Regions from separate parts of the Homo sapiens genome. Here region 1 is linked to region 2. The links come from fine-mapping of genetic effects on gene expression. A gene starts in region 2. The other region holds a variant in brackets. All regions are shown on one strand. Distances are from middle to middle.

The links. PIP is the estimated chance that this variant, and not a neighbour inherited with it, causes the effect.
Region 1: its variant is fine-mapped to the expression of RGS11 in adrenal gland (GTEx, PIP 0.97).

The regions. Positions count from the first base shown.
Region 1 is chr16:958,085-966,937 of GRCh38, forward strand. All of the region lies in intron 1 of LMF1 (lipase maturation factor 1), which reads right to left. Among named protein-coding and RNA genes, the nearest start is that of LMF1, 8.5 kb to the right of the region's middle. RefSeq lists an enhancer at 1,900-2,400. The variant G/A (reference allele first, on the strand shown) is at 5,085.
Region 2 is chr16:271,817-280,669 of GRCh38, forward strand. RGS11 (regulator of G protein signaling 11) reads right to left here and starts at 4,128. Exons shown (of 17, transcript NM_183337.3): 1 at 4,033-4,128; 2 at 3,586-3,682; 3 at 3,467-3,517; 4 at 3,160-3,266; 5 at 2,398-2,449; 6 at 2,227-2,285; 7 at 1,944-2,020; 8 at 1,659-1,740; 9 at 1,047-1,115. The coding sequence starts at 4,095. It overlaps ARHGDIG (Rho GDP dissociation inhibitor gamma), which reads left to right and starts at 8,775. Exons shown (of 6, transcript NM_001176.4): 1 at 8,775-8,853. RefSeq lists enhancers at 1,132-1,668, 1,669-2,205, 3,393-4,044.

The sequences.
Region 1 (8,853 bases), 690 kb after region 2:
AAAATTAACCAAAAAGGATCATAGACCTAAATGTAAAACATAAAAGCATAAGACTTCCAGATGGAAATATAGAAGAAAATCTATGTGACTTGGGTTTGGCAACAAGTTTTTAGATACAACACCAAAAGCATAATCTATGAAATTAGAAACTGTAAATTGAACTTTATCAAACTGAAAAACTTTTGATCTGCAAAAGCTACTTTTAACAGAATGAAAACACAAGCCGCAGATTGGAAGAAAATACTGGCAAATCACACATCTGATAAAGGATTTGTATCTAGAATATTTAAAGAACTTTTAAAATTCAATAATTAGAAAACAAACAACCCAATGTTAAAGGTGGGAAGAAAAAACCAGGCCACAAGGTCTGAACAGACATAGGAAGGTGTACGGATGGCAAATAACACGTGAAAAGATGCTCAACATCCTTCATCACTGCGGAAATGCCCATGAAAACCACAGCGTGCTGTCACCACACACACGTCACATGGCCGAAGTGCTTGAAAACGGACAGTGCCCAGGCCGGGCGCGGTGGCTCATGCCTGTAATCCCAGCGCTTTGGGAGGCCGAGGTGGGCAGATCACCTGAGGTCAGGAGTTCAAGACCAGCCTGGCCAATGTGGTGAAACCCCGTCTCTACTAAAAATACAAAAATTAGCTGGGCATAGTGGTGCACACCTGGAATCCCAGCTACTCGCAAGGCTGAGGCAGGAGAATTGCTTGAACCCAGGAGGCGGAGGTTGGAGTGAGCCGACACAGCGCCACTGCACTCCAGCCTCGGCGACAGAGTAAGACTGTCTCAAAAAAAAAACCAAAAAAACAAAACAAAAAAAACACGAACATGGACAGTGCCCAATGCTGCAGAAGGTTCGGGACAGCAGGAGTGCCCTCGCTGTGCCGGGGATGCTGTGGCCTACCACTGTGGATGGCAGACGGTGGCATCTGACCCAGATAATGAAGGGTTACCTTACAAATCAGCTACTGCACCTCTCAGGCCTTCAACCTGAAAGTGTGCTCGCACAGAAGCCTCATGCAGATGCTCATAGCAGCTCTGTTCATAGCCACTAAAAACTAGAAACAAGGAAGACATCCTTCACGGTGGAAGTGGATAAATAACCGGAGGTGCATTTGTGCAACAGAAAAATAATCAGAGATAAGAATGCAGCTGTTGGTTCAGGCAATAACATGGATGAATCTTAAGTGCATTTTGCTAAGCAAAAGAATCTAGACCCAACAGGCTATATACTGCGTGATTTCATTCGTATGTCACACTGGAAAAGGCAAAACCAGAGGGACGGGAGACAGACCCGGGCGTGCCAGGGGCTGGTGCAGGGGAAGTGGTCACTCCCATGCACGGGGGACTTGGGGCTGGAGCTGGGGTGATGGAGGCAAAGCCCACAGCACTGAGCATTACACGAGATGAACTTCAATGTGCACAAACTATTGGGGGAAGACCCGACCAGGAGGTTGGGGGATGCAGATAGAATACAGGCTCCACACGCACGGATGTGAAACAGAAACACACTGGCCAGAGGGCAGGAGCCGCCTAAGCAACTCCGGAAAATGTTCTGAGTGGAGACCGCAAGGCCAGAAGGAGCTGTACACAAACGCTGCACTCCAGGGCTTTCCCCCCCGGGCCTGGGTGGACAATTCTCGCACGTGCACCAGGGCTGAGCAGATGCTAGAGGAGTCAGGGGAGCCAGGTTCCCACTAGCAGAGAGGGAGGATTCAGATGGGCCAGCAGGGAAGACTGGAATACACCGTGTGCCAGGACGGGAGGATGGAATACACCATGTTCCAGGACGGAAGGCTGGAATACACCGTGTGCCAGGTGAGAGTCAGAGTCATCGGCATGGACCAGGTTGACCTTCGTATACTTACAGATGGATAGGTGGATACGACAGAGAAGCAATCAAATGTGTGAAATGAGATAGTGACACACAGAGCCTAGCTCTACCCAGGAAGAGGGCCAGCAGCTGTGACACCCCGGGAGCAACGGCCCTCCCAGTGCCCAGACTGAAGTTTCTATGCTCCCCTAAAAAGAACCAGGGCTCCTTGGAAACAACTCATTCTAGGGCTGGGGCAGAGAAACAGAAGCTGGGCCGGAAGCATCCCTGCGGGGAAGGAGGGGAAACCCACCAGTGGTCAAAGCTGGAGGAGCTGAGCAGCAAACTCACAGTGACAGCACTGGATCATAACCCAGACAAAGACTCACAGTGACAACACTGGATCACAACCCAGACACAGACTCACGGTGACAGCACGGGATCACGACCCAGACACAGACTCACGGTGACAGCACGGGATCACGACCCAGACACAGACTCACGGTGACAGCACGGGATCACGACCCAGACACAGACTCACGGTGACAGCACGGGATCACGACCCAGACACAGACTCACGGTGACAACACTGGATCACAACCCAGACACCATCTCATGGTGACAACACGGGATCACGACCCAGACACAGACTCACGGTGACAGCACGGGATCACGACCCAGACACAGACTCACGGTGACAACACGGGATCACGACCCAGACAGACTCACGGTGACAGCACGGGATCACGACCCAGACACAGACTCACGGTGACAGCACGGGATCACGACCCAGACACAGACTCACGGTGACAGCACGGGATCACGACCCAGACAGACTCACGGTGACAGCACGGGATCACGACCCAGACACAGACTCACGGTGACAGCACGGGATCACGACCCAGACACAGACTCACGGTGACAGCACGGGATCACGACCCAGACACAGACTCACGGTGACAACACGGGATCACGACCCAGACAGACTCACGGTGACAGCACGGGATCACGACCCAGACACAGACTCACGGTGACAGCACGGGATCACGACCCAGACACAGACTCACGGTGACAGCACGGGATCACGACCCAGACAGACTCACGGTGACAGCACGGGATCACGACCCAGACACAGACTCACGGTGACAGCACGGGATCACGACCCAGACACAGACTCACGGTGACAGCACGGGATCACGACCCAGACAGACTCACGGTGACAGCACGGGATCACGACCCAGACAGACTCACGGTGACAGCACGGGATCACGACCCAGACACAGACTCACGGTGACAGCACGGGATCACGACCCAGACACAGACTCACGGTGACAGCACGGGATCACGACCCAGACACAGACTCACGGTGACAGCACGGGATCACGACCCAGACAGACTCACGGTGACAGCACGGGATCACGACCCAGACACAGACTCACGGTGACAGCACGGGATCACGACCCAGACACAGACTCACGGTGACAGCACGGGATCACGACCCAGACACAGACTCACGGTGACAGCACGGGATCACGACCCAGACACAGACTCACGGTGACAGCACGGGATCACGACCCAGACACAGACTCACGGTGACAGCACGGGATCACGACCCAGACACAGACTCACGGTGACAGCACGGGATCACGACCCAGACAGACTCACGGTGACAGCACGGGATCACGACCCAGACACAGACTCACGGTGACAGCACGGGATCACGACCCAGACACAGACTCACGGTGACAGCACGGGATCACGACCCAGACACAGACTCACGGTGACAGCACGGGATCACGACCCAGACACAGACTCACGGTGACAGCACGGGATCACGACCCAGACACAGACTCACGGTGACAGCACGGGATCACGACCCAGACACAGACTCACGGTGACAGCACGGGATCACGACCCAGACAGACTCACGGTGACAGCACGGGATCACGACCCAGACACAGACTCACGGTGACAGCACGGGATCACGACCCAGACACAGACTCACGGTGACAGCACGGGATCACGACCCAGACACAGACTCACGGTGACAGCACGGGATCACGACCCAGACACAGACTCACGGTGACAGCACGGGATCACCACCCAGACAGACTCACGGTGACAGCACGGGATCACGACCCAGACACAGACTCACGGTGACAGCACGGGATCACGACCCAGACACAGACTCACGGTGACAGCACGGGATCACGACCCAGACACAGACTCACGGTGACAGCACGGGATCACGACCCAGACACAGACTCACGGTGACAGCACGGGATCACGACCCAGACACAGACTCACGGTGACAGCATGGGATCACGACCCAGACACAGACTCACGGTGACAGCACGGGATCACGACCCAGAGGGAAAATAAATGGGCGTGGGTCCATAGTGACAAAATCAGTGACCACAAACAAGTAAGTAACAAGATCTTCCTCACAGAGGAATTCCACATAATGTCCGCAGACACTCCCTTCAGGAGGCGGGGGCTGGACCCAGTGAGCGGCTTCCAGAGGACAGAGCGGGCGGGAAAGCAGGGACCTGTCAGAGGGCACACCTGGCAGGCAGACCTTGGCCGGGTGATCAGAAAGCCGTGCGGACGTCAGGACCCTGATACGGTGTGACGGGAAGGGCCCCGCACCTCTGTGGGCGTCTTCCCAAAACCCATCACCCAGTCTAATTGCGAGGAAACACCAGACGGACCCAACGTGAGGGACGCTCTACAGACGCCATGACAGGCCTGCTTGACACTGTCAAGGTCGGAATCCTGCACAGGAAAGTCTGGGAGACTCACAGACCAGGGAGGGAGGGAGGAGACGCCAGGACAAAACCGGGTCCCAGAACGGAACAGGCACGGGTGGAAAAGCCATAGAGTCTGCAGTTTCAGTTAATAGTTTTATTTTTAATAAAAAAATTTTAAAAAGTAAAGGTTTCTCGAAGACTCTGCACCACTCAGTGCCCGGCATGAAGCGCTGTGAGCAGCCTCCCTCCAAGGCAGTGGGAGCAGGGCCACAGGCAGAGCACCGCAGGGCCCTGGGCGACGAAAGGGTCAGGGCTGGTGACCTCTAAAGGGGCTGCGACGGCAGGTGGGTGGGGGCAGCTCCAAGTGAGGAGGAAGAGGGTGGACACAGGCGGGCACGGGATGGACACAGGGTAAACAAAGGGCAGACACAGGGCGGGACACAGACTGGACACAAGGCTGGACACAGGGTGGACATGAGGTGGGACACAGAGGGGACTCGGGGTGGGTC[G/A]CAGGGCGGGAAACAGGGCTGCAGCAGAAGGCTCCCCACACCCCTACTGCCTCCACCACTGGGTGGAAGGGACCTGAGCTGTGAGCGCTGACCTCCTAGCAACATAGAGGACACCTCGCGGTAGGCCCTCAGCCCCGGCGGCCACACGTGCAGGGACCGCACCAGCAGCTTCCACAGCTCAGGCCAGTGTGTGTGCATATGGGTATGACATGCCCATGTGTCCCTGTGTGTATGTGTCTGTACACATGTGCACATGTATACATGTGCACCTGTGCATGGATGCCCTGTGTCCATGTGTGCACGGGTGTATGCATGTCTCTGTACACGTGTGCACATGTACACATGTATGTGTGCGTGTGCAGGGATGCATGTGTGTATGTCCTGGCATGTATGCAGGTGGGAGAAACACAGGTTGTGACTGTTCAGCCACTGCACACTCCAGGGCCCAGCCTTCATTGGTGCTAGGCTGGGGCCCCTTTCCCACAGGGACCTAATTGGCGCTAGCTGAAGGGTGGATGTGCTCCACCCCTCACCACAACGCAAACTCCAGGACCACAGAGGAAAACAAGATGTGGCCTCACCAAAGCAATAGCCTAAATCAGTAATTCTAAGGCAAGAAGCATAGGATGCTTCCTGCTTATCAGGAAAAAGGAAGACAGACTGAATTGAGATTTCAGAGAGAAAAAAACTATTTCAACCTCTACTCATGTTATAAAAATAGCTACATAAAAAGATGCAGTAAAAATCTTGAAACATCACAGGCTCTCAAAACAAAACTAACCAAGCAGTCAAGCTTCGGAAGGCCCCGTCACTACCCCACACGGGAGGCAGCAGAGCCATGGCGGCCACCCGCCTCTCACAGGGACCCAGAGCCTGACCTGGGAGCTGCAACGAGGAAATACCGAGGAAATACCGTGTCGCCCGAGCAGCCAACAGCAGGCATGGCCGATAAATACTTTGTTTCAGAATCAGAAAGAAATAGCTGGGCGTGGCAGCCTGTGCCCGTAGCCCCAGCTACTCGGGAGGCTGAGGCAGGAGAATCTCTTGAAATCGGAAGGCGGAGGTTGTAGTGAGAGGAGATTGCACCACTGCACTGCAGCCTGGGCGAAAAAGTGAAACTCTGTCTCAAAAAAAAAAAAAAAAAAAGAATCAGAAAAAAAAAATCAGCTTTCTCTTTTCTCCTTTCAGATAAATTGTTGTAAGATTAAAACAGTCATCCCAGAAATGCCGTTCTCTGTTGATGGTTCTTACTGGCCGTGGTTAAATTCTGGGCCTCAGCACAGTGACCTCAAGTATTTTTTCTTTAAGGGATGTGCTGCAGAGCTCCGAAGTAGGGCAGTGCTGTTTGCTTTTTAAACAAGCAAGTATTTTATAGAAGAACTTGTAAAACCAAGTGGTGCATTTCATTAGAACTCAAGTGGCCCGGAGAAAAGAAAAAGAACTCATTTCCCATGAGCTCTTAGAGCCACTGAAAGCTCAGAACAAAACCAACTGAGCAGGGTTTCAAGTATTCTTTTTGGTTTCATTTTCTCCTCAAATTTTCTGAAGAACAGCTGAGAGTTTAGCAAATACGGGTGCAAACGATTCTGCCTGCCACGTCAACCCTGCCTCGGGTGTCATCTGACGAGGATGCCAAGCTACAAGGGCTGCGGTGAGACTCAGAGACACGCTACCAATGGCACCGCGGCCCCACCTCGCCGAAGCAGCTGCCGGGGAGACGCGATAAAACTGCCCCACGCGGAAAAGAAGGAAGGGCGGTGAGCAGGCGCACAGAACAGACGCCACAGTGCGGCACGCATGCCTCCACGCCTAAAGGACAAAACTAGCATGGAGATCCCCTAGAGGTCGGATTTTCAACATAATCTCAGTGAGCCCAGGACTCCAATGTGACAATGTGGAACTGGAAAGACGAGCAAGAAAAGCCCCTCCGTTCCCGCCAGCGTTGGGCATTCCTTCTGCAGTCCAGGCTGTCCCCGTCACTCGGGATCACAGCCAAGCGGTGGGTTCTGTGTGGTGCTTGGCTCCTAGGGCCTCGCGGAAGCCATGTTCTTCTCCATTCAGCTTCATGGAGAGACTTTCCCAGGTTTCAGCCCACGCTACGAAGCTAGACAGGAGAGTGGCCCCCACCCGCCCTGTTTGGAACCCAGCTGGGGCATGCGGTGTTTGGAACACATGGGCAGATTGGGGAGAGGCCAGAAGAGCCTCATCCAGAGCCAAGGACAAGCCTTGAGGCTGAAGAGCTCACCAAGGCCACTACAAGAGAGCAAAAAAAAGAGCCTCAGAGACTCCTCGATAAATAACCAGAACAGAGAGCAAAGGTGGAGAGCAGGAGGGCAAGGCACTGAGACTTTAGAAGCTTCCAGGGAGAAGAAGAGTCAGATGCTTGAAGATGCCTCCTCAATGCTGCAAAGCTCTGAGGGAAAGTGGCTTTGATGGAGAATTAGAGATCCGGGCAAGTTGGTCCTTTCTGGAAAAGCTGCTTGGGGATACACTCCAGCAAAAAGAGAATCCACCAGCAAACAGGAAGGCATGAGCAGCCCAGGAAGTATGAACACAACCAAGGGAGGGCTGTGGCAGTATCTGTCCTGCTGGGCCGCACCTCGGGGCTGGAGGTGGGTAGAGGGGAAAGAAGGGGTAATGGCTGGAAAAGTGTCCCATGCTGACACTAAGCCCTGGTAGAGACCACCTGCTACGGGTCAGCACATTTCACTGAGCAGGAGATGCCCCTAGAAGACAAGGGATAGAGGTATAAAGAAAGTCCTCTCCCTGACTGCAAGGAGCTAGAGGGGAGACAGGCACAAGAACAACACTGGAATGGGGACAATATCAGCCGCAAAGGAAGCAGAGAGCAGGGCTCCGGTGGTCAGCCCTGGGTGGGGTCAGGAGTCCACGAGTGATGAGGGCTAAGTCTGAAGGCCAGAAGGGTGTCGGCAGCCACGGAGAGAACAAGTACAGTTAACCCTGGGAAGGCAGAGGCCAGGTGGTCTCAGGACCACGGTCAGGAAGAGATGCCTCACGTGGCGGGGACACAGCGGGAGCAGTTCAGGCACCACGGCTCGTCCACTGGGGCCCCAGCCTCTCACTGCAAGCAGTGCAGGTGGACATCTGCCCCAGAGGCAGCAGGGAGCGTGTGTCCCAAAGCCCCCAGCACTCATGCCCTGTGCAGGCGCCGAGCAGCCGGCCCTGGCCGGGGCGGTTCCCTCCTAGGCCTGTCCAGGACTCGGCCCCCACAAACACATGGACCGACAGACGAAATCCCTCAGGAGTGTCTCTGCGCCGACGCCATGGCACCCACGAAAAGTGCCACACATAAAGTCAGTCTGCAAATGCCAACGTTACCCAGTCTTCATGTCACATTTCACCTACAGATCCCTTCCGAATTGTAACAATATCTCATAAATGTTTGAGCTTCAAAGGAAAGGTCCTTTCCGACGTTCAGATATATATACTCCGTGGCTGCCTGCGAGCCGTCTCCCAGGCGGGTGTGTCCTTGGTCCGCCTTCTGGGAAGTGTGCACAGGCAAGGAATCCCATGTCAGCCTCAGGACGGCCCAGCGGTCACTCTCACCTCATCAGTGACAGGAAGGTCTTGATGAGCAACTTGGCCAAGGCCACACAGCTAAGGTGTGGCCCACCAACCCTGAGCCCCACTACTTCCACCTGTCACAGCTTCCAGAAAGTTCTCTGCAGTGAACTGCTATCAACCCAATTCTGACCAACTGTAATTACACTGTTTCCAGATAACACCTTAATTCTGAGGCAGTTAAAAT
Region 2 (8,853 bases):
AACTGTAATATGTCATTTTTTTTTCTTTATTATTTTTTTGAGACAGTTTCACTCTTGTTTCCCAGGCTGGAGTGCAGTGGTGCGATCTCGGCTCACCGCAACCTCCGCCTCCTGGATTCAAGCTATTCTCCTGCCTCAGCCTCTCCAGTAGCTGGGACTACAGGCATGCGCCACCAAGCCCAGCTAATTTTGTATTTTTAATAGAGACGGGGTTTCTCCATGTTGATCTAGCTGGTCTCGAACTCCTGAACTCAGGTGATCTGCCCGCCTCAGCCTCCCAAAGTGCTGGGATTAGAGACGTGAGCCACCGCGCCCGGCCTAATATGTCACATTTTCAAATGTACTTAAATTATGTTTTTAAACAACACATACTTGAGAAATACTACTAATGGGGATCACTGGGGAACCAGGTGTGACCTTCATTGGTCGGCACCTCGCTGGGGCCAGAGCGGAGGAGGCGGACGCGCTGCGAGTCCTGGCCTGTGTCCCCGCTCTCTCTGACCAGCTTTGTATGGGGAAATGTTAGGGTCGTGAACTTAAGAAGTTTTATCAGTGAGGTTCTAGGTGCATCTTTCCAGATGTTGGGTCTGGATGGGACTGGTTTGAACAAAGGGTTTTGCTGCTGCGGGGCTCAGATGCTCCCTCTGGTCTGGTCCCTCTGGTTCTGGAGGCCTCCACCTGGAGGGAGGTTGCTGGATCTGCTGAGGTCTGTCAGAGGCCGTAACCCTGCTTGTCACCCCTCCAATTCCCAGCAAACCCTGATACTGTTCTGGAGAAGAGCCCCCTTCCTCCCCGCCAGCCCCCTCGTCCCCACCACTCCACTTACCTGCACCCAGGGCAGCAGGTGGGAGGGGAGAGAAAGCGAGAGTTAGCAGGGGCCTGGGGAACAGGGAGTGACCGGGAGTGAGCAGGGGCTTGGGGAGGCTGCACCAAGTGCCCTCTGGGTGGACCAAATGACGGACAGATGGGCAGTCCCATGGTGCGTCCAGCAGGGTGCAGCCGGTGTGCAGGGTGAGAGGGCGGCCAGCACGCACGCAGGGGCTCACCATGAGCACACGGCTGGCAGCGCAGGATCCCCGCCCTGGACCCTGCTCCAGCACATCGGGGGCCCCGGGCTGCGGAGGGGAGACGAGATGAGGTGGGGATGCAGTTCCGGTGGCTGACCCCCTTTAAGGCTAAGTTCCCCCTCCCAGACCCCCATGTGGAAACTGACACTCAAAGGAACTCGGGAAGAGTCCCGACCTAGCCGTCAGCTGTCTCTTCTCTGCTCACCACCTCCAAATGGCCTGTCCACCGGGCCTCCCCACAGCCCCAGCTGCTCCCGGCCTGTGAACTCGGTCCCCCCACTGCAGCCAAGGCCGCCCCCACTCTGCCTGCTCCCGAGGCAGAGTCTGCAGTCCCCGCAATCTGGCATCCCTGTGACTCTCCCTTGGGCCCAGAGAGAAGCTGGCTTGTCCTGTGGTCTAGGGATGGAGACCTGGGTTCTGATTGGCAGAAACGCAACTAAGTCACGAAGTGAAAACGTCCTGCCCCCACCAGGAGCTCCAAGGCAGGTCCTTCCACAGGCTCAAAATGGTGGTCCTGAGAGCGCCTGTCAGGGAAGCACGCTGACCCCTGCGCTGGCCAGCGACCCCCACCCTCACCGCAGGTGGGCTCACCGGGGGCCTGTTCACCAGCCAGTAGGTCTGCTCCTGGCACGCAATGACCAGCCTGTCCCCCTTGCTGCGCTGCTTGGCTGCCCTGGGAGGAGGAGGCCGAGTTGAGGGCACGCCCTGCACACAGCAGCCCCTCCGCCCCCACCCTCAGGCCTGGACCTGGGCAGGCAGCCACACCCAGGGGTGCCCTCCACGGTCCCAGGGCCACCGGAGCCTGGCCTGGGCTGGGCTTCCCGGGTAGCCTGGGTTGGGCGCCTGCAGGCGGGGCGGGGCAGGGCGGGGCCTCACCTCAGCTGCTCCCTCGCCTGCATCAGCACCAGGTCCCATGCGTGGTTGATCTTCTTGTGTAGCCGGTCATAGCAGTCCTGGGGGCAGCGAGGTTTCCAGTGGGTCACCCCGGCCCCTGCCCCCAGTGAGACTGTGTGGGCAGTTGGGGGGTTGGGGACTGTCTTGGGTTTTGGGGCCTGGGCTGTATGTTCTGGGGTAAACCGTGAAGCCCCGGGGGGCCGTGAGTGAGGCTTGGGTTCCTCCAGCTGTACCCAGCCGGGGCGGGAAGGGTGGGGGGTCCCACCTTCTCATAATCCACCAGGGTCCCCCGTTTTCGGATGTTCTTCTTGGCCAGGTAGATGGCTGGAAGAACAGGGACAGCCTGCAGAGGGGCCAGCTCTGCCCTGCCTCACGGCATCACCCTGAGGCCCCCAGTCCTGGGAACTTGTCTGGGGCCAGCCGTCCCCTTGCTCACCATAGTCCAGCTCTGCAGCCGGCCTCAGGGTACTTGTCCAGAAGTACGGGGTCTGGCGTGGTGCAGGGAGAAGGTGTCCAGGACGCCTGCGTCTGTGCCTCCCCAGTGTCACCCCACCCTCAGACCTCCCTGGGAAGAAGCCTGGGCTGGGCAGGAGGTGTCTGAGGATCTCCCTGCCTGCCCACCACCGAGAGACTCCACTGACCACTGGCCAGTCTCTCCAACTAGAACTGAGGTCAACTCGCTCCTTAGGGCCCTGTTCAGACACTGCCTCCCTCACTGGTCACCCTAAGCCCCCATTCAAGGCGGGGTGGGGCTGGGGGCCTGCACAAGTCTTGGATGTAGTCACAGTCTGTGCCTGGGGAGGGGTACAACCGACGGCAGGTCGGCCCGGGACCCTGATGTGGTTAGGGAGGGCAGGAATGCTGTCCTCAGGCCTTCACAGCCCCTCCCTCAGGACCTGGGCCTAGGGACCCCCAGGAAGATGGCAGAATCCTCTGCACATACGACCCCTTGTGGGGCCCTGCTGTGGTCCCCAGGAAAACTGAGGCTCCATCCCTCAGCCGGGTCCTTCTCACCACATCCGTACTTGCGGTCCAGGACTTTTGGGGAGGGGGCGATGGACCACCAGCCCACGGCGACATGGCGGAGTCCCACTCCAATCCCAGCAAGCTCGGCGCCCCTCCTGTCTCCCCGAGTTGGTAAGCTGGGTGGGTGGGGGTGGGGGTCCCACCGGCTCCCACCTGCACCCCCGAGCCTGACCTGGAACCTGTAGGGCGTCTCGTCTGGCCGGAGCATGAGGCTACGGGGGTCGCGCAGCGGGTAGATGTAGCCATGCTGCACCAGGACGGCGCCCAGGTGCAGGGCCTCTGGGGAGGGGTGGGACGGTGAGCGCGGGGCCGCGGAAGCGGGCGAGGGCGGGACGAGCCGGGCCTCCTCTCCCCTATGTGCTCCCCACCCTTGCACAGCGCGCTCAGCAGGGCTCTGAGAACTGCCAGACTCCAGGAAAACCCAGGCCTAGGCCACCAGCCCAGTGACCCCAGGGCCCAGTGGGAGGCAGGGCGCTCACCCTCCTCCGAGACGCAGAACTTCTGGGCCAACCACTGCACGACGTCGCTGCCTGCACGGGAGAGACAGAGGTGGAGGGAGGCCGAGGCGCGCACGCACCCCCGCCCCGGCGCGCCTCACCTGTCACCGCGTGGGGAATGACGGTGACCAGCAGGCGCTGGCTCCGCATCTTCACGCCCTGGTCGGGGTCCTGCATGCTCACGACCACCCGCTCCATCTGGGCGGAGGGAGTCGTCAGGGGGTGTCTGGCCGCCCCGCAACCCTGATTCCCTGGCACCGGCCGGGATGCCCCGGATCCGGGAGCGCGGAGATTAACGCGCGGCGGCGGCGGATTCCAGGCCGCAGCTGGCGGCGGGGACGCGGGGCGGGCCGGGGAGGGCCGGGGAGGGCCGGGGAGACCCCGGAGACCCCCAAGGGCCCCAGGCCTCGCCGCCCCTCCCGGCCTCGCAGACCTCCGCCCCAGGCCCGCCCCGCCCCGCGCGCCCCCGTGTCCCCATGCTCTCCGGCCCCTCCCGGCCTCGGGCGCCGGGAAATCGGGGGACGGCGGGACACCCACCCGCCTCGCACCTTCCTCAGATGCGGCATCTGCGCCCGGGGGCGGCCGGGGGGCGGCGCGGGGCCGGCGGCCATGGCTGCGGGGCGAGGCCGGCGGGGATGACCGACGTCCCGCCCGGCCCCGCCCCGCGCCGCGCCGCGCCCGGGTTAACCCTCGGGCCGCGAGGCCAGAGTCGCCCAGGCCCCGGTTCGGGTTTTAAGAGACACGGCCACGGCCCAGAGGCAAACGAGCCGGCCCCCCACGAGCGACCCGAGTCACCCCCCCGACCCAGGTCCCGGGACGCTGAGGCCCTCGTGGGTGAAGGCGAAGTGGGACGGGGGAGGGTGTGGGCCGGGGGCCGAGGGGGGATGTGAGGGGATGGAGCTCAGCTGGAGCAGGGGGTGGTCTCTGGGAGAGGCAGAGGGGCTCATCAGCGAGGGGGGGTTACTATGGGGAGGGTCTCAGGGAGGGCAGCGGAGGGGATGGGGGTTCAGAGAGGGAGAGGGGTTCCGTGAGTAGAGGAGACCCGTAGGGAGAGTGAACTGGGGTGGGAAACGTGGTTTAGGGCCCACTGTAACCCCGGTCCTATGTGTGGGGCCCTGAGGACATACAGGGACTAGAGGCCTGGCTGTGGGGCCGGGGCCAGGGCCAGCGGTATGACTGCCCGAGGCCTTGTGTCCTGCGATGCTTGTGGCCAAGACTGCATACATTGCTGTGACGGTGGCTGGTTAGGGGCAGGGTGCATGAGAGATTGGGTCAGCTTTCTACATGGGCCGGATGCCGGCTGTCAGTGGAGCACGTGGCTGCTGCAGAGTGTGACCCAGCTGTCCCCATCTCCTGCTGTGGGTCCCTTATCCGGGGTCCTTCCGGGAAAGTGGCTGATGGCTCATGGCTCACTTCCCTCAGCTCCACGCAGGCCTGGGTGGCCCGCTGGGGAATGAGCAGAAACCCTGCCCAGGGCACCCTGACACTGTTGGAGAGGAGCTTTACTGCAGGGAGGCCCTCAACACACACCCACTTAGTGTCACCGGCGGCCGCCAGGCTTCAGGCCCCACTCCACTCCCAGCTCTCTCCCTCCTCCAATGGCTATGCCTGTCCCCCAGGTGCACCCCGAGCCAGGCCCAGGATCTTCAGGCCCCACCGGGCAGTCTCGGCTCACTGCAACCTCCGCCTCCTGAATTCAAGCAATTCTCATGCCTCAGCCTCCTGAGTAGCTGGGATTACAGGCTCCCACCACCACGCCTGGCTAATTTTTATTTTTGTTTTTGTTTTTGAGACGGAGTCTCACTGTGTCACCCAAGCTGGAGTGCAGTGATGCGGTCTTGGCTCACTGCAGCCTCCGCCTCCTGGGTTCCAGCGATTCTCCTGTCTCAGCCTCCTAGGTAGCTGGGATTACAGGCACGCGCCACCACACCCAGCTAATTTTTGTATTTTTAGTAGAGATAGGGATTCACCACGTTGGCCAGGCTGGTTTCGAACTCCTGACCTCAGGTGATGTGCCTGCCTTGGCCTCCCAAAGTGCTAGGCTTATAGGTGTGAGCCACTGTGCCTGGCCGATTTTGGTATGTTTAGTAGAGATGGGGTTTCACCATGTTGGCCAGGCTGGTCTCAAACTCCTGACTTCAGGTGATCCACCTGCCTTGGCCTCCCAAAGTTCTGGGATGACAGGTGTGAGCCACCACACCCGGTCGGATCATTTTTTAAAAACTAAGTCGAGGTCTCACTATGTTGCCCAAGGTGGTCACAAACTCCTGGGCTCAGTCCATCCTCCTGCCTCAGCTTCCCAGCGTGCTGGGATTAAAGGCATGCCCAGCCAGCATCTTTTTTTTTTTTTTTTTTTTGAGACTGAGTCTTGCTCTGTCAGGCTGGAGTGCAATGGCGCAATCTCGTCTCACTGCAACCTCCTCCTCCCAGATTCAAGCAATTCTCCTGCCTCAGCCTCCTGAGTAGCTGAGATTACAGGCCCCCGCCACCACGCTTGGCTAATTTTTGTATTTTTAGTAGAGACAGCATTTCACCTTGTTGGCCAGGCTGGTCTTGAACTCCTGACCTTAGGCGATCTGCCCACCTCGGCCTCCCGAAGTGCTGGGATTACAGGCCTGAGCCACCGAGCCCAGCCTCAGCACCATTTTTAAAAGGTGCAAATGCATCTATTTCTGCTTGCTTTCTTTATTTTTTAAATTATTTATTTATTTATTTTGAGATGGAGTTTCACTCTTGTTGCCTAGGCTGGAGTGCAATGGTGCAATCTCGGGTCACTGCAACCTCCGCCTCCTGGGTTCAAGCGATTCTCTTGCCTCAGCTCCCAAGTAGGTGGGATCAGAGGCATGCGCCACCATGCCCGGCTAATTTTTTTTTTTGTTTTTTTTTTTGCATTTTTAGTAGAGATGGGGTTTCACCGTGTTGGCCAGGCTGGTATCAAACTTCCTGACCTCAAGTGATCCACCTGCCTTGGCCTCCCAAAGTGCTGGGATTACAGGCATGAGCCACCGCACCTGGCCACTAATTTTTTTTTTAATTTCATTTTTATTTTTGTAGATAAATATACACGTAGCCCCTCGCTTATCCCTGTCTGTAAGGGCCTCAGTTTCTTGCTGTGTTGCCTAGGCTGGCTGATCTTGAACTCCTGGCCTCAAGTGATCCTCCTGCCTCAGCCTCCCAAATGTTGGGATTACAGGCATGAGCCATGGCACCTGGCTATGTATTTATTTTTTGAGAGATGGCAGTCTCATTCTGTCACCCAGGCTGGAGTGCAGTGGTGCAATCATAAACTCATTGCAGCCTCAAACTCCTGAGCTCAAGTGATTCTCCCACCCCAGCGTCCTGAGTAGCTGGGACTACAGATGTGTACCACCGCATCTGGTCTATTTCTGCTTTCTTGGAGGCAGAGTACCTCTCCCCATCCTTACCCACTCAGAGGGTGCTAGGGGCTGGGCAGGGTGGGCGGTTGGCCTTGGGCTGGGAGCCCCTAACATAGTGGTCTGAGTCCATTTCCATTGCCGGAGAGGCCACGTTCAGCATGAGCTGGGGCAGGGGGCTTGTGGGGTCTCTTACTCCAGGGTACCATCTCGCTTGGATCCCAGTGAGCCCTCCCATGCCCCACACCCAGGTGGGGTGAGGTGGCCCAGGTCTGGCTGCCCTGTCTGCAGGGGTGGGCACCCATGGTAGCTGTGAGGCAGAATAGGGAATGAGGGTAGCCAAGGGTTGGGCATAAGAAACGGAACAGCAGGTGCAGCCAGTTCTAGGCAGGATTGGGCAGCTCACAAGCCACATCCTGGCTGCTGTGATAACAAGACAGAAATTTCCACTTCACCTCTGATTGGTCTCGGGCCAATCCTTCATAGGGTGTAGCCAATTGGAGGCCTCTAAAGGGCACAAGGGCTGTGGTCAGGTTTCTTTGCTTAATAAAAATCCTAATTACAGAGGCTCTGGAGCTACTTGCTCCAGCCCACTCCCACTCTGTGAATTGCCTTCCGTTAAATCTGTGCTTTCCTTACTCCGTTCTTCTGACTCAGTTTTGTTTCCTTGTGTTTCGTTGTTCTTTTGTTACTTTGTGCGTTTTGTTCAATTCTTTGTTCAACCCACCAAGAACCTGGACAACTCACCTCCAAGACCTTCTATCTGGTAACAGCTGCAGGAGCTGGAGCTGTGGGCCTGGGGACAAGTGTCCTAACAGCCCCCGCTCCCTGCAGCGAAGGGTCAGCAGAGGTGGCGCTCTAGGGGGGCCTGGGCACAAGTTCATAGGATCCTGCCCTGGAAAGGTTGTGGGCAGTTGGGGGGCAAGGGAGACAGTCCCCACCCAAACCCCAATGCCCCCTAGCACCCAAGGTGGTCTTCTCTCAATTGAGGAGCTCTTTGGCAAGGGCGGGTCTAATTTCTGGTGTCCCTGGAACCGGCCAGGGGTGTCTAAGAAAGGGACTCAGGCTGGTGTTCGGACCCCTTCTCCCTTATCCAGACGCAGGCCTTTGGTCCAGCTGTCCCAGCCAGGGCCTGCTCACCCCTGTCCCCTGCCGGGTCCCATCCCCCCCACCCACCCACAGGTCTCAGTTTAGGTGTCAATATCAGAAGCCCCCTCTGTGCTCCGGTCTCTGTACTCCGCCCCCTTGTCAGTGTCCTCTCCCTGAGGACAGGGGGCTCGGTAACTGGGTTTCCAAGAGCCCTGCAGGGACACCCCCTCTTGGGAACTCACACAGCGCAGCCAGGTCGCTAAGCCTTTGAGGGGCCCTTGTTGCCTCCTGGGTGTGCGTGCGACCCGCGCCCACTGTGGTCCCGCCCTACTGATGACCGTGAACCTGTAGGGTGTTGGGCCAGCCCCTCACCCCAAGGCTGGGCAGGCCCCCGGAGTCCCCCTCGGCCCAGACAGAAGCTCCCTCAGGAGCGGGGGAGGGGAAGGGGGCGCGCGGTCCGGCCCCAGGTGTGGCCGCGGATAATGAGACCCTGGGGATGGGGGCGCACCTGCGCCACGGCGCCCCGCAGAGGGTTTCCCAGGAGACCCCCTCGGGCTCCCGCCGCGCCGTGGGGGTGGGGCAGCCCTGCTGGCCAGAGCCGGGCACGGGCCGGGCGGGCGGCGGGGATCGTGACCGCGGCTGCGTGCGTCCGCGTCCGGGCGCTTCTGTGCGGGGTCCTGGCACGCCGGCGGGGGCGACCCGGGTGCCGGCCCGTGCGGGCGACACGCGCGTCTCTGCGGGGCTGCGCGGGGTCCGGAGCGGCTGGGGGCTCTCTGCCGGGCGCGGCTGGGCGCGGGGGGCGCTCCCGGCCGGGATGAGCTCACCGCAGTCGCGCCGGGGCTGAGCGCCGAGCGGGGCGGCGGCGGGGCGGGCGGCGGCTCCTCGGCGGCTCCGCGGCGCCCGGGC